Linked DNA regions of Homo sapiens: region 2 is linked to region 1. Evidence: fine-mapped expression QTL. A gene starts in region 1. The other region holds a variant in brackets. All regions are shown on one strand. Distances are between the middles of the regions. Region 1 holds the start of VAC14 (VAC14 component of PIKFYVE complex). Region 2 holds the start of MTSS2 (MTSS I-BAR domain containing 2).

What was found.
Region 2: its variant is fine-mapped to the expression of VAC14 in whole blood (TOPMed, PIP above 0.99).

What each region holds. Positions count from the first base shown.
Region 1 is chr16:70,797,968-70,806,285 of GRCh38, reverse strand. VAC14 (VAC14 component of PIKFYVE complex) reads left to right here and starts at 5,128. Exons shown (of 19, transcript NM_018052.5): 1 at 5,128-5,489. The coding sequence starts at 5,386. It overlaps HYDIN (HYDIN axonemal central pair apparatus protein), which reads left to right. Exons shown (of 86, transcript NM_001270974.2): 86 at 1-4,202. RefSeq lists enhancers at 5,093-5,152, 4,820-5,442 and a silencer at 5,233-5,422.
Region 2 is chr16:70,684,889-70,693,190 of GRCh38, reverse strand. It overlaps MTSS2 (MTSS I-BAR domain containing 2), which reads left to right and starts at 7,138. Exons shown (of 15, transcript NM_138383.3): 1 at 7,138-7,468. The coding sequence starts at 7,400. It overlaps VAC14 (VAC14 component of PIKFYVE complex), which reads left to right. Exons shown (of 19, transcript NM_018052.5): 18 at 220-370; 19 at 5,101-5,752. The coding sequence ends at 5,263. RefSeq lists enhancers at 1-177, 178-1,005, 5,104-5,610. The variant T/C (reference allele first, on the strand shown) is at 3,169.

The sequences.
Region 1 (8,318 bases):
TGCCCAGTAGATGCCTGAAACCACAGATAGTACTGAACACTCCATATACTGTGGTATTTTCCTTTACATACATACCTTTGATTAATTTATAAATTAGGCACAGTAAGACATTAACAATAATAATAATAAAATGTAATAATTATAATAATATGCCAGCATCACTACCCATGTGCTTTGGGGCCATTATTAAACTAAATAAGGTTTCCTTGAACACAAGCATTGCGATCCCATGACAGTTGACCTGCTAACCCCAAGTCATCTACTCAGTGACTATCAAGTAGGTTGTGTCTACAGCATGCATACGCTAGACGAGGGGATGATTCACATCCTGAGCAGGATGGAGTGGGATGGCATGAGATTTCCTCAAGTTATTCAGAACAGCATGCCATTTAAAAAGTATGAATTTTTTATTTCTGGAATTTTTCATTAAATATTTTCATTCCACAGTTGACCACAGGTAACTGAAGCCATAGATGAGGAGGACTGCCATACTCAATAGACAATTTATTTCTATAACCTCTAAAGACACTACTGATAGGTCTAAAGACAACCAGATGACAGATTTTCACAATGGTTAAGTGAGCAAAGATCGCTCTGACCAATAATCTGAGAGGATGCTAAGATCAATGAGCAAGAGTGATGACTTGCAAATATACAGCATCTGTATAAAGTCAGTGCTTCTGAAATATTAGTATACATCAGCATCCCCTGGAGGGCTTACTGAAACAGATTGCTGAGCCCCACCCTCAGGAAGTCCGATCTAGGAGATTTGGGTGGGGCTTGAGAATCTGCATTTCTAACCAGTTCTTGGTGATGCTCGTTGGTGAGACCAATCAGACTGTGAGAACCACGACTCTAAAGCCTCGAGCCTCCTGGTTATTCGGAGTGGCCTATGGACCTGCAGCATCAGCATCACCTGGGAATTTGTTAGAAAGGCAGGCCCTCAGGCCCCACCCTAGACTTGTTGAATCAGAATCTGCATTTTCATGGACCTCCAGGCGATTTGCATGCACATTGCAGCTGAGAGTGCTACTTTAAGGTACCTGGCAAAACTTGACATTTGCCAAACCCACAGCCATAACTCTTTCATTACAGTCCTGAGAAGTCTTACCAAATCTGCATAGGACCTAGTTGATGAAATTAACCCTCCCCAAAATGTGCCTCCTTCCACCTATTCACCAGAGGTATAGGTTAGGAGAAGGGAAGCAATTGGTCCCTCACCCTACTCTTCAAAAGGGTGTACTTTTTCAATAATGGTCAATGTGGTACACCAAGTGATCCCTAAGACTAAAGAAAAGGTGGAAGAAGCTGTCTGAAATCTTGTCTAACATGCCACCAGCCCCAGCATGGCTTATAGCCAGCCTTGGGGTGGCTAGGGGCAACTCCCCCAACTTCAGACCTGTTCCAGTGCTTCCCCAAGCCACTGAAGCTGTCCATATACATTTTATAAAAGTGATCAGGGAGAAGGGAGGGGGAGAAACAAAAACGAACCCAGGTTGCAGCACACTCAGCATTAATCACTAGATCAGCCTGCGCTCAGACCTGCTTCCTCATAGCTGTTTGGTGCCTGCTGTTTCAGAATCACGTAGACCCTGCTAAAGATCATAGTTCCCCTCAATGCTCTGGAGATAACAACTTGAACATTAGGAAACGTTAAGTTTTCCGTTTGAGATATTTATTCTTGGTCCTGTGTACCAGTGAAACAACTGACATCAGCTGATCTGAAGGACCTCACGAGAAGCTGATTCACCAAAGAATGCGGTTTCCACATCCTGATGATTTCATCCGTCTTACCCAACCAATCAGTCACCTGGTTTTTCAGCCCTTCACCCTCCAGGATCCCCTTAAAAACCCCAGTCCAGAACTCTTCCGGGAGATGGATTTGAGGGTCTCCTCCCATCTCATCACTCAGTGACCTTTGATCATCACTTTCTCTGCTGCATCCCCACTGTCTCTGTGCATTGGTCTGTTACTGCACAGTGGGCACACAAACGTGTTGGTCCTATAACACCACTGAGTCTAGGGTCCAAATCCTCCTAGCCCCTGAGAGAGGAGGAAGTTCCTTCTCCCTGGGACCAAGAGCCAAGCTCAGATCCTGCCCCAGTGTGAACCCTCTTCCAGGCTGGTTTGAGATTGGGTGCATTTCTTCCCTTTAGGTTTTTCTCGTGCTTCCTTAGCCTCAAACAATAACAAAATAGTCTTATATTAGCAAATTTGGAATGGCAAAGTAGCTTAACAGCAGGCTTGATGAAAATAACCCTTCCAACACATGCTTGTGGAAGTTACATTGGAGAATCCATTCTCAGCAAAGCAGACCAGGAGACTTCTAACTGGGGGATGTTCAGAAAATGTCAGGGTAGCTGTGTGGCAGAACTCCAAGGAGCACTGTGCACAGAATACCATGGGAATGGGGCTCCCTGGCCTCGTTCCACACTGGGCCCCCAGTGAGTGTGGCATGCTAAGTCTAACCACTTCTTTAGGAGCCTCAAGTCAGAGGTGACAATACTGTAACATTGGTGAGGGCCTGCTACATTTCAAGACCTCTACCTAATACCTTAAACCCTGTTGCCCTGAAACTCCAGCTACAATTACATTGCTGTTGGAGAAACTGCTTTGCACAGTTCAAGATTTTGGTACAATTTCTTACAATGTCATCAGCAGCCTCTTGCTACAAGTTATGTCATAACTTTTACATACTTGTAATAGCTATTATGAATAGTTGTTACAGAACTATTACAAGTTCTAGCATAACAACCAAGCATCACACAGATGCAGATGAATTGTAACTGTGAAATAATGACTAGTATGCAGTCAGGCACATCAGTTATCCCCTAGTCTAGAAGAGTTTCAACAGGAATGGTCACAGGTCAGAGAAGAGGAACAAGGGTGGAAGGCAAGGGTAGCCTTTGGGCTTTATTTTTACCACCACTGCTAGCTCAATTATGCATAAATAATCTTACCTAGTTGGCATTTTTCAAGATATTAGAGAAAAGAACCACTTCTTTCTAGGAACTTCTGACCTAAAGGTAGGCATTGGTCTGGGCCTTGAATAAAAAACTGGTTACTTAGCAACCTGAGCCAGAATATAATTTCAGGAGAAAAGAATACTTCTGGTAAAAAAAAAATTCCTTATTGTTTGAATTATTAAAAACTGTATCATTACCCTTGGGAAATTCAGTTCACCTCTAAGAAAAAGCCAAACCAAAAAGCAAAAGAAACATGAAATATATTAGATATGCGTCCCGTGGAAATGCACACACATTGGAGAAATAGAACCAAATCATTCCCATTGATTTACATTTTTTCAGTGTTTTTCATCAACCATCATCAAAATCCTAAAACCAAACTTTGCAAGACATTTGGAGATGTCCTTGGCAGCACTACTACTACTTGTTAGCGCACCTACCTTCATTCATAGGATTGTGTCAGCAAAGGTTTTAACAACTATGAAAACCCCACCTGTATAGGAGAATACATTTTTTATGGATTTTTCTAGACATGATATATCCATGACTTGCCGAGTTTTGGATTAGCCTTTGTATTCATTTTCTATGGCTGCATAACAAATTACCACAAAACTAGGAGAGCAAAACAACACAAATTTATTATCTCACAGTTTCCATGGGTTGAGAGCCCAGTGTGAACTGGATTCTCAGCTCAGGGTTCCACAAGGCTGAAATCAAGGTGCTGGCCAGCTGCATCCTCATCAGGAGGCTCAACTAGGGAAAGATCTGCTTCCAAGGACCCTCAATGTGTTGGCAAAATTCATTCCTTTGTGGCCATATGACTAAACTCCTTACAGGAGAGTCTCTCTTCCAGTTCAAATTTCTTCTAATCTCTTTTAAGTACTCACTTGATTCGGTCAGGCCGACTCAAGTTAATCTCTCTTTTTATTAATTCAATGTCTGCTGATTAGGGACCTTAATTACATCTGCAAAATCTCTTCTGCGATATTACATAATATAATCATGTGAGTGATGCATAGCCCATCATATTTACAAGTCTTGTTCACGCTGAAAGAGGGCATAATACAGGGCATGAACACGAAGGGGTGGGAATATTGGAGGTCATCCTAGAATTCTGCCTACTTTTGCCCTTTACTCATTGCGTCCCTGTTTCTGTTGAGGAAAATACTCCATTTTCAAGACTGTTATAAGGCCTATATATGCACTTTTCATTCATTAAAGAAAAGTATCACCATGCATTCTGAAACTGTTATTCTTTGAGCTCCACTGTAATCTAGCCCTTGTCCTAAGTCCCTGTTCACTCTGAAAGCTTATGATAGGAAAGGCTGATGCACCTCCCTGTTAACTGCATGTTTACCACACTCCGGCCATAAATTGCTTTTAAATATTTTGCCACATAGTTGGGATTTCTGTCTCACCATGTAATGTGATTCCCGAAGCAGCTGAAGGGGCTGCTTTCCAGGGGACCTATCTAGAGACCCGCACTCAGCAGATCTGGGGCCTTTCTCTCTGTCTGTAACCAGCCCTCCTAGGCATCAGAGCATGTTAAACACACCCCCAAATGGTGGAGTGACAGACACTGGTGGTACCTGAGATCTTAGGTGGTAGACAGGTAGTGCCATTTTTAATTGAGAATTTATTTTGATGTGTCTTAGAAAAAATATACCTATTCAAACTCATGGTTTTAGGGCATAAGCAAAGCTAAAAGAGATTTAAGGTATTTTTTAAAGTGAGTTGATTTGAGGAAAACATTAAATAGATAATACAAGTGGCTAGAATATGGTGAAAGTGATGACAGTGTTACTGCAGTTAGGGAAACGTCTGCATCTAGGAAATTGGTAAGTGACCAACTACTGAATGAACTAGTGAATTCGGTGACTATTGAATAAATTATGTTAAGTGAATCAGACTCCAAGAACCCATTCGGTCTTACGAACGTCTACAGAAGCCCACCACGTGCCATCAGTTGGGCGTGAGCTACACACCCATTAAAGCACGTCTCAAACCACACTCCAGCTACCTGGCGCGCAGCGCGATAGTGTGTGCAGTGTGGGTGGAGCCTTCCGAGGGCGTGGCCAATCCACCTGCGGCCTGCGGTGGGGGCGTGGCTGGAGAGGGGCGGGCCCTCGCGACGGAAGGCGGAAGTGCTGTAGAGTCATGTGACTCGAGTAACATGGCCGCTGTCTCGTGAGTCCCGCTAGTGCCGGGCGGGAGTTGTTAAGCGGCCAGGGTCAGGTGTGCTGGAGCGGGGTCCGGGCCCGGGTTCCAGGGCGAGGCGGCGGAGCGTGGCAGGCAAGCCTAGAGCGGCGTGGTCCATGCGCCGGCGCCGGGGGCAGAGCGGAGCCGCAGACTCCCCTGGCCCCGGCGCGGCCCCGGCAGCCGCGGGCTAAGGAGTCGCGAGGTTCCCCCAGCTGCCACCATGAACCCCGAGAAGGATTTCGCGCCGCTCACGCCTAACATCGTGCGCGCCCTCAATGACAAGCTGTACGAAAAGCGGAAGGTGGCAGCGCTGGAGATCGAGAAGTAAGAGCCGCCAGGACCCCTCCCTGGCTATGCAGCCCCTGACTGCTCTGCTCCCCAGGGGGACTTCTCACGCCTTCCCAGCCAGGGTTACTTTCCCAGGTTTTAGGCCCTTACCTTAGCGCAGTGTTTAAGAGCAGATTGGGAGCCATATCTGGGAGTCCCTGCTTTACTCCTGACTGGCTGTGTGATTTGGTCCCAGCTTTTTAACCTCCCGGTGCCACAAAGGGCTGCAGTGAGAATGAAGTGACATCATGTATGGGTAGTGCTTTGCACAGTGCATGGCACATGGTGAGTCTTCGGTGCGGTGCCACCCAAACCAGCAAATCAGAGAGTTGTCTCTGTGGTGAGAGAGAAGTCAGAAGCCGGAGAATTTGCAGGTGATGCTGACCAGCCTGGTTTCTTACCCAGCTTCTGAGAAGTGAAGGAGATTGTTAGTGACCAAGTAGAGAAATCAGGTCGGAAAACTCGTGATCTCAAGGCTCAGAGAGTTTTTTGTTTTATCTGTGTTATAACACCCTTCCCTGCAAGTGGAAGTAGAAATAATTTGACCTTTCTTGCTTCTGCAGTCTTGTTACATGTATGTGTAACAATGATCTGATATTTTACTTTATTTCCCAATGTACAAAACAGCGAAAGTTTAACTGGGGATGTTTTATTTATTTTTTTTTCTGCAGTATTATTTTACTTTTGTGGGTTTTTTCCCAGTCACATTTTAGTGTTAAAGTCAAGTGAGTGAGTGATTTCAGAAAATTGGAAAGAAGCAGGCTGTGAAACTGGAAGAATACCAGTCTGCGAGTCAGAAAAGGTGAATTGTATTTCTGTTCTGTCCAGTAGAGTAGCCGTTGGCCGTGCGTAGCTATTATAAATTTAAATTATTAAAGATTAAACTTTAGTTTCTCAGTCACACTACCCGTATTTCAAGTGTTCAATAGCCACATGTAGCTATTGGCTGCTATATAGGGCAGCACAGATTATAGACTGTTTCCATCATTGCAGAATGCTCTATTGGACTGCTCTAATCTATTCCGTGGTGTGACATTCATTCGTTAACCTGGGGCAAATTCCTTAACTCAGGGTTTCTCAGCCTCTGCACCATTCACATTTTGGGGCAGATGATTTTTGGTTGTAGTGGGCTGTCCTGTGCCTTGCAGGATTTTTAACAGCGTCTCTGACCTCTTCCCACTGGATGCCAGTAGCACTCCATCCGTTGTAACAATCAAAAATGTCTTCAGACATTGCTAAATGTCCCCTGAAGGAGCAAAATTGCCCCGGTTGACAACTGCTGCTTGCAATCCAAATCAAATGTTGCTTTGGATTTTAGTTTCCTCCTAAACTAAAGGGTTCGGACCTTGATAAGAAATCCCCCACCCTGCCTCCATTCAGCTCTCATACTCAGTATGTCCACAACCATCTAGCTGCTTCTCTCATCAGACACCACTTTCTTGACTGCTCCTTTTATATAGCTTTTTGTTTATGCCTGACTCTCACGAATGCTAGCAAGTCTTATTGCACATTGCCATACTGAATAGAGGGACCCAGAAATGATATATAGGCATGGTTCCGTGTCCATGGGGTTTTGTTGGCTTTGAAGTTGCCTTGACACCTAGTTTTGTCCCTCACCCACTCTGCTTCTCAGGAATATCCGGTTTTATTGTAGCTTGAGTCGTCTGTTGAGTCCTTGAAGAGAGAGGTATTCATCTCAACATTATTGTTGCTTCCAGCGCAACCTGTGTATCTGTTCTCACTCTGCACACAGTTCTGTAAGGGTTTTGTCTTTGATCGAGTTCATTTTGTATTGGACATTGCCCTTGATTTGTGGAATTTAGAGAAACTCAGCAGTGCCTTGACTGTGAACTCCTTAAGAGCAGAGAGTTCTGTTTATGTATCTGTTTTATTTATCCTTAGCACTTAGCCTGGCAGCACTTGACAGCTGGTGTCCGAATAAATGAATGACCGTACATTTTCGGTGGGGAAATAACATTGCAGGCTCAGGACCTTGCTGCCCAAAAGCGTGGCCTACAGACAGCAGCATCAGGATCACCTGGGAGCTTGTTAGAGGCTCTGCAGCTTTGCTCCAGACCTATGGAATCAGAATCTGCATTTTAACAAGATCCCTGGGTGATTTGTGTGCACATTAAAGTTTGAGAAGCACTGGCCTCAAAGACCCTCTCATCTGTTTCCAACCTTCTCCAGTCATGCTTAGAATGAAGAATGGCTGGTTAGTTCAATGCCTTCCTCAGAACATATGCTTCACAAATTGCTTAGAGATAGATACTGACTTACTTATCTGTGCTTCACCAGCACCAGCATTTTGCTTGTCTGAGCACTTTCTATGTGTCAGGTACACATAGGATATTGTATGTTTTAATATATTCTTCATTTGGCCTGGTCAAAGTGACCCTCAGCAAACACAGACTATTAATTAATCTCTCATTAATCAGACTGCAGATGCCCAACAAAAGAAGAGTCCGAATATTGGCAGTTATCTATGTAGTGTAAATGAGTCAGTTCATGTGCTCCCTAAATGAAAGTGCTTAGTCCTGTTCTTAGGTAAGTTGCCCCTTTAAGATACCCTATTTCCTGAGAGGCTGCGTGGCATGGTGTTTAAGAGCAGGCTCTGGAACTGGGGTTCAAGCTCCCATTTACTGGCTAGGTGACCCTGAGCAAGCTAATTAACCTCTGTGCCTCAATTTCTTCATCTGTAAAAAGAGCATAATAATAATATGCATAGAGTTGTTTGAGCTAATGTTGTAAAGTGCTGTGTTAGTCTGTTCTTGCTCTGCTATAAACAAATACCTGAGACTGGGTAATTTATAAAGAAAAGAGATT
Region 2 (8,302 bases), 110 kb after region 1:
TCCTGGGGGAGGTGGGGGCAGCGCGACTGGCTGTGAAGGAGCCCCTGACTCGCTGGAAGCCACAGCCACCTGGCTGGGTCCACACAGCTGGGTCCTTGGGCTGTGGGTGCCATGGCACCAAGTCCCAGGTGGTCCTGGCCAGTCGGAGGCAGGCAGTGTGGGCTGGGCGTGTCCCAGAGCAGTGCCAGGTCCCTGACCCCTGCCCTCTGCCTACCCCAGATCTGCGCCTGCAGCTGCTGGACGTGAAGAACAACCCCTACCTGATCAAGGCCCTCTACGGCCTGCTCATGCTCCTGCCGCAGAGCAGCGCCTTCCAGCTGCTCTCGCACCGGCTCCAGTGCGTGCCCAACCCTGAGCTGCTGCAGACCGAGTGAGTGCCGGCTGGGGACTGCTGCCCCCGCCCCCTGAGCAGGGACAGGCCCAGAGGAGCCTGGTGAGGAAGGGCCTTGCCAGGGGCTGCTGAGGCCTCCCTCACTTCAGCATCCCACCCCTTTTGTCACTGTGACCACCATCCCCCCCGCAGCCACTTGCCCCTTGGCCTCTTGTGTCCACATCAGAGCACCGAGCAAGGGATTCTGGGAGCCCTCACACGGTGGCCGGGAGTAGCAACACTTCCAGGCAATCAGGGTCCAGCTCAGTGAGGCTATGCAAAATCTAAAAACTCTGAGGGCATCTGGAGTTACCCAGACAGAGGACCCTGGAGAGAAACACCGGGCAGGGGGAGGAGTTCCTGCCCCAGCTTAGAGATGGGGGCCCCAGTGGCTGTCTGTGCTGGGCACCTCCCAGGCCTCACATAGCCCCTCCCCACCCTGTCTGTGGCAGAGGCTCAACCCTGGGTCACTGGGAGACCCCATCATTGCTAGGACCTTCTCAGCCACTTCCGGGGTGGGGTGGGAGGCAGGGGTACACTCAAGGCTCCCCTGCTCAGGTCCTGCCCATGGAAGGAACAGGTCCTAGGCACCCCTCCACCAAGAGGCCCAGCTTGGCAGCCTCTGGTCAGAGGAGTGCCGGCTCCCACCCTGAACCCACGGCTGGCCCCTACCCCAGAGCCTGTAGGGCTGCATCTATATTTGGTAACCCTTGGAGGCTTTGCCTCATCCACAGGCATTTGGCATCCGAGATGGAAAATTTCACTTGTCAGGTCGCCATGGAAACCAGCAGAGCCACTGAGAAGATTTACGCTGAATGGAGCGCGCCCAGCTTGCATCAGATGCCCTGTGTGTCTAGAATTCCCTCCCAGGCTGTTAGAGCCACTCAGCAGGCCTGGCGCCTTGCTCCAGCAAAGGGCCTCGGGTGCTCGCCTTTGCGATGGACACAGGCAGCCTTGAGACAGGCCTGCCCGGAGGCCCTGTGCCCTCCACACCGCTGGCATCGGCTCCCACTGCCCCTCCCACCCAGACTGGCCCTCGGATGGCTGAGTGTGGGGCACCTGATAGGCTCTCTGCCCCAGGCCAGCTGGAGAGGCTGAACCCCTAGAAAGTGTGGCCCCAACCAAGACCGGCTCGTGCCTTCCCTGCCCCATTTCCCCAGAAGGCAGTGCCCTGCAGTGGCAGGACTAGGCCTTGAGCCGGTTGCCACCCCAGCTGCTCAGGGTGCTGCCAGGTGGTCCCCAGAAGACAGCACCTGATGCAGTGTCCCCAGGGGAGCAGGGTCAGCCATGGAGCGGGGGCGCATGTGTGGGTTCCTGGGGCCGGAGTGCTGTCAGCTCCCGAGAGACTCCGAGAGAGGCCTAGAAGCCACACCGGGCCTTGCTGGCCCAGCCTTTGCCTTGGCCCTTCAACGCCCCATAGTGTTAGGGTCAACCTGGCAGGCACCCAGGAGGGGAAGGTGCAGCCGGAAGCAGGGAGGAGGCAGGAAGGGCTGCTTCCCTGTGACCTCCAGTCTCCCTGTGGGAACCAGCCTGCCTTCCTGGGAGTCCTCCTGGCCAGGGAGCCAGCCCAGCCTCTCCCGGGTCTCCGAGTGCTGATCTCCTCGTCTTGGGAGGGGAGCAGAGGCTCAGAGCAGTCAGACTCCTCAAACCAGGGTAGAACAAGTTTGCAGAGGGAAGCTGGGAAAATGAGGCTTTCCTCAGAATCTCCCACGGTCAGTCAGGGAAGTCTTGAGCCAAGGGGTTGAGGCCTCTGGGTAGAAGATTCTGAGGGTCAGTGGATGCTTTGCAGGCCTAGAGTAGGATCTGGTGTGAGCTCTGCCATGGATTTGTTGTGTGACCTCCAGCAAGCCCAGTGCCCTCTCTGGGTTCTTGGTTACTTGGTCAGTAAATGCACATTTGGACTAAATGGGTGTGTGAGACACCCCCTAGCCTTCAATGCCCTGGACCCCCAGCCTTACTTTGCAACGACCTAGGAAGAGATACCATAGATAGGGGCACAGAAGCAGTGGGCATGCCAGGGGACTTCAGAACAGCTGGGGGAGGGGTCAGATTGCAGGGTGGGGCCCAGAGGACGGCTCACACCCTGGGAAGGGAGCTGAGGACAGTCCCAGCCCTGGGAGGGGCAGACAGCTGGCAGACAGGGTCGAGTTGCGGGGCAGGCCTTGGAGCTGGGAACAGCTGGGAGAGTTTTGTACACTCCTCGCCCATCCCTGGTTCTGTGTGCTCCAAGTGCCATCAAGGCCCTGGGGACCTCAGCTCCCCCACCCCCTGGCTTCTGGGCCACTCCCCAGTGACTGTCTCCTCAGTAAGGCAGGAGGGAACCTCTAAGAAAAAGCTGGCAACAGGTGCATGGGTGGGATGGCAAGAGTGAGAGCCGGCCCTGAGTCCTGGACTTGCCACACTGTGCTGTGGGCTGGCTGGCCTCAGCCTCGGTGCCCGAGGGTGGTTATGGACCTACAGAAGATGTGCAGGGCCTGAGAGCAGCCATCTGCATTAGGTGGGGCAGGGAGAGCGGGCCTGGCCTCTGTGCTCAGCAGCCCAGGCAGTGTCACCCACCCCCGGTGACACAGCCCGCCCTGCTCCCAAGATCTCAGGCCAGGAAGGGTCTGCCCATCACAGGGAGCAGGACTTCTTGCCACCCTAAGGGCCCAGGGAGCAGATGTGGCCCACTCTTCCCACCCCGACCAACCCTGCCACACCGACGCCATCTTCCCGGGTTTGCCATCCAGTGCTGAGAGCATCTCTCTAAAGGCCCCTAAGCTCCCCTAACCTAAGGCCTTGGCTTGCCAGGAGTGTCA[T/C]GGGGAGCAACGCACAGACCTGTGGGTGCCCAGCATCAGAAGACACACTTTAGGGTCACACCTGTGGCCTTGGCCTAAGTGGGTTAGAGGAGCGTCTGGCCACACCCTGGACTTAGGGCTGCAAGCTCCGGGGTGGCCCTTGGCCTCCTTAGAAGTCCAAGCTGCTCTCTTGGAGCAGTGGCACCTGGTTCCCAAGGTTACTGTGCCTGGGAGGTCCCTTCCCAGTAGCAACCACAGCCTAGAACACTGCCCACAGCCTGGCCCTCTAGAATGGCCCCGCCCAGCTGCTTTTGATCTTTGTTGAACTAAAGTCAGCTGAGCCCCGCTAGGGAGCCAGGAGCGCCAGGCCCAGAAAAGCAGCAGCCGCAGCCGTAGACATGTCCAAGATGTTTTCTGGTGGTGCATCTTCAGCAGGGAGGCGGGAAGGGAACAGGTGTGGGCAGGCAGAGCTGAGCAGGGGTGCAGGAGGCCGCCTCCGGGCCCCAGATGGCATCTCAACTGTGGGAAGAGTCCCCCTGCCCTGGTCCTGCCCAGCAGGCTGGTGGCCACCTGAAGCAACTGTCAGGCTCTGGCCGTTGACTCTTCCTGCTGGACTGAACTCATGGCCAAGAGTTCGTTTTGGGGGAGCTCCTTTTTGTCTCCCCCAAAATGGCCTCCTTTATTTCCACCCTCAAGCTGCTGGGCCCCGGCTGGCCTCACGTTGGAGGGGCAGAACTGTAGCCACAGTGGCACCTGCCAGATACCTAAGCTGGGGCTGGATACCAGGTGAAGCTCTTACACATCGTGTCAAGGCATCTTGGCAGCCACCCCAGGGCCGCTCCTTAGGTAGCCCTCGCTTTGCAGATGAGGAAACAGTCACATGCTCAAGTCACACCGCTAGGAAGCGGTGGAGTTATGGTTGGGTCCAGGTCTGTCTAGATCCTGTGCTCTGCCAGTGCCTGCACCCCCCTTCCCGGCCCCGCCGATTGGCATCTTTTCATAAACTTGAAGGGCCCCAAGACTCTCTGCTTAGCTGAGCAGCCCACAGTCTTCCTGAGACCCCTTCCCAGGTCCACCAGGCCTCAGGGCCTGGAAACAGATACTTCCTAGCCCACATGGATCTGCTCCTCCAAACCAGTGAGGCCAAAGGGAGGGAGCAGAACATTTCATGAGACACTGCTGGAGGGTGAGTAGGAACAGGACAGGAGCCCAAGGGGATCTCATCGCCAGGGGCAAGCTAAGCACTGGGCTTGACAGGGACAGCAAGGCTACCGCATTGCACCATTATAGGGAGCATCATGCACACTAGCTGTGCAGTGCACAACCTGTGTTGCTGTACAGAGCAACTGGAGAGGGTGGCAGCAACAGGAATGTAGGAGCTGTAGGCATGTCCAGTGGTGAGACCGGCATTCCTCCTCCCAGGGACAGTGAGTGACTGCAGGCCTTGGGGCCCCAACACTCAAAAACAAATGTCCTGCCAAGTGGAGGGCCCGGCAGAGGCTCTTCAGCAATTCCCATTTTCCCCAGTCCTAGCCCTGCCTCTCAGAGAAAGGGCCAAGCTGCCACCTCCCCCTTCTCCCCAGACCCTGTTCCAGGCCCCAGCTGGCTTCCTGGCTGGCTGCTAGCCCTGGCTTTCACCCCAAAGGGAGCCACTCGTAAACAGGAAATGCTTCCCAATGCGATGCCTGCTCTGGGCGCCATCGCCAGCCCACAGGCCGAGGGCAATAGCCAAGCAGCAGTGTTAGCTGTTCCCACCAACTGCGGAAGAGGGGGATGCTCAGGGGCTTCCCAGCTCTGGGGCCCGCCATGACGGAAGAGTTGCCAGGCCTGAGACAGACGCCCACAGGCCGAGCCCACCAGCCTGTGGCTCTGCCTCTGACCCCACTGCCCTCCAGCAGTAACCCCCCTGTGAGCTGATCCCTGACACTGAGCATTTCTGCTCCCTCTTCCCAGAGACAGTCTAAAGGCAGCCCCCAAGTCCCAGAAAGCTGACTCCCCTAGCATCGACTACGCAGAGCTGCTGCAGCACTTTGAGAAGGTCCAGAACAAGCACCTGGAAGTGCGGCACCAGCGGAGCGGGCGTGGGGACCACCTGGACCGGAGGGTTGTCCTCTGACAGGCCTGGCACGGAGGAGGGCCCACCGAGTGGTCCCATGAAACACTAAGGGTCGTCACGCCCTCCCGAGGAGCTCAAGGACCTGCCTGTCAGGACCAGGGCTGGGCCTGCCAACCCAGGGCAGTGTTGGGGCCGGAGGCTGCTGTGTCTGCCCAAGCTCCTCTCAGAGTCCAGTCCCCAGGCCTCCAGCGCTGTCAGCTGCACCCTGGCATTCTCACAGAGCTGGCTGCCCACCCAGTGGGGGGCTATAGCCTCAGAGACCACTCATCCTCTGGAATCAACCTCTTTCTAATACCCTCTTGGAAAAAGAGCTTGCCCCTCCTCCAGCACACTAGAGCTCTGGCCTTGTGTGTATATGTATACATACGTGAACACATGCCTGTGTGTGTGTGTGTGTGTGTGTACTTGTATGCACGTAGGCACCAGCACAAAGATCTGAATGATGCACCCCACCCCCACCCCAATAAAGAAATAACAGAAAACCCTCAACCCGAGCCGGCCTGCTCCTTCCCAGCTGACACGTGCAGCTGTCCGGGGGCCTCACCCTCTGTCCTGGAGATCGGGTTTCATGATGGCCCCAAGGAGTACTGGCTGCCCCAGGGCCTGGTCCCTGCACTCACCTGAGTGGAGCCATGGGCCTAGAGCCTAGGTCCCCACCTCTGGAACCTGCACCCTCCTGGAGAGCACCATGCACTGCCTGCCCTGGAATCCTGAACCCTGCCTTCCCCAATCTGCCTTTCTCATCCTGACTCCCTGGGGCAATGGGAGTTCCCCACTGGGGACATGGGAGCTGAGCCCCAGGAGTTCCTGGATGAAAGGGCAATGCACACTGCAGAACACTTTGCAGATCTCGGGGCAAGGGGAGGAAAAGCCCAGAGCAGTCCAGGGAGGGGCAGGTGCCCCAACCACTGCTGCAGCTGAAAGCCCTTCCTCACCGGGAGTGGTACCACCTGTCCCCAGGCTTTGGGAACCCTGGGCTTGGTCTCCTAATGAGCTTGTAATTGGCTCCCTCCGGCCCATGGAGTAGGCGAGAAGGAGCTTGTGCCTGCTCTTCCCCAGAGTGCGCTCCCCCATCGTGCTGCCCCCCAGGGTGGGTTTCCCTGCCTGGAGTCTCCAGGACAGGCTGCGATTGACATTGCTACCCCATGCACGTGTGTGCATCGCACCCACCGTGGACTCAGGCAGCAGAGACCAAGGACACTCCAGCTCTGCTCTGCAGGTCCGACATTAGCCCCCACCCGCGAAGAAGGAGGTTGTTCAAGGCCCAGGAGACTACCACTGCCCCCCAAATGCCCAGCCTTGGGCACCCCATCCGGGTGGCATCGGCACCACTTGGAGAAGGAGCCAAGGAACTTGGAAGGGTCCGAACTTGAGGAAGGTCTGTGCCTGCGATGAAACGTCCCAAGGCGGGCGGCTCCACGATACCCCGCGCCCTGCTGTGTGCGGTGTATGCCACCCATCCAGCCCATGCACCGACCCCATCCCGCCACTGTACCCACTGCCTGTCTTTAGAAGCGCGAGAAGCCCCCCGCCCCAGACCAAAGGCCAGAAGATATCGTGGAGCCCCTGCCCGGGGGCCGAGGCCCAACCGCCAGTCCCGCTCCTGCGTGGGCAGGGCGGGCCCCGCCCAGCGCCGCCCCCCGACCCTCGGTGGCGCCCGCGCCCGTCGGCCCCGCTCGCCGGACCAGTCTGGCAGCGCCCGGGCTCGGATTTCAAAGCCCTGGTTTCTGGCCGTGAATGGGCCTGCGCCCGCGCGGCCGTTCCCACAGCCCCCTCCCGCGCGGCCCGCCCTCCTTCCCTCCCTCCTCGCGGTCCCCCCTCCGCCGCGCCCACGTGACGCCCGATCCTCGGCGGCTCGGATTACCGCCGCCGTCAGTCCCCGCGCCGAGGCTGCGCCGCGAGCTGCCCGCGCCGCGCCCCCCGCGCCGCCCGCCAGCCCCGCTGCGACATGGCCCGCGCCGCCCGCCGGAGGCCCGCGACCCCGGAGCGCGGCGCGGCCGGCCGCTGAGCGCAGCCTGGAGGCGGGAGGCCCGGCCCGGCCTCGGAGCGAGCGCCCGCGCGGCCTGGCCCCCTCCCTTGCGCTGCTCCCCGCGCTCCGTGCGCCTAGCCGCCGCCGCGGCCCGGCCCAGCCAGAGCATGGAGACGGCGGAGAAGGAGTGCGGCGCCCTGGGCGGGCTCTTCCAGGCCATAGTCAACGACATGAAGGTAACCGGGGCGCGGCGGGGCCGGGCGCGCGGCGACGGGTGCGGGACCCCCCGGGGACGCGTGGCGGCGGGTGGCCGAGCCTCGTGTGGCCGCGCGCCGCGGTGTCTGTGTGTCCTTGTCTGAGCGCGTCCTGCCTGCGTCTGCTGGGCGCCCGTGTCTCCGGGTGCCCGTCTGGGGGTGTGGGTGCTCGTGTGTCGGGGTGTCCGTGCGGTGCCCGCGGTGGCCCCGTGGGGTCCTGACCCGAGCCTGTGCACACGCAGGCTCCCTGCGCCCCAGACCGCCAAACCATGAATGGGGTTTGGATCCAGGACCGACTCTAGGGCCCTTTAACGAGTCCGGGGTCTTACCGGCCTCCGCCCCCTTCCACCACCATGTTCCCCCACGGCCCCGGAGCCCAGACAATGCTGTCACCGCCAAAGCAGGAAAAAATAATAAAGCGGAGAACCGTTAACTCCTTCCCCGCCGACCTAGGCCTCTGCACCCGACCGTGAGACTGCGTCCCCCAGCCCCGCCCCACCCCCACAGCCCCAGGAAGCTCCAGGACTCCAAGGTCTCCAGGCTGAATGTCCCTGCATCCCAAGGATAGGCCTTGATCATCACCTTGGGAGGAGGCGGGATGAAGGTTGGGGTCGGTGGAGCAACCCCAAGGAAGCGCTTTTCCTACCCCATTACCACCCTGGGCTCTCAGCTCCGAGCCCTCCTTGTCTCCCAGGATTGCTTAAGGTCAGGCTGGATCCAACCACCCATTCATTCCTCACCCCACCAGGTGGGGAAACTGAGGCCTGGAAATGGCTCAAGGTCACTAAGGAGACTATTGGACCCTTCCCCTGACCT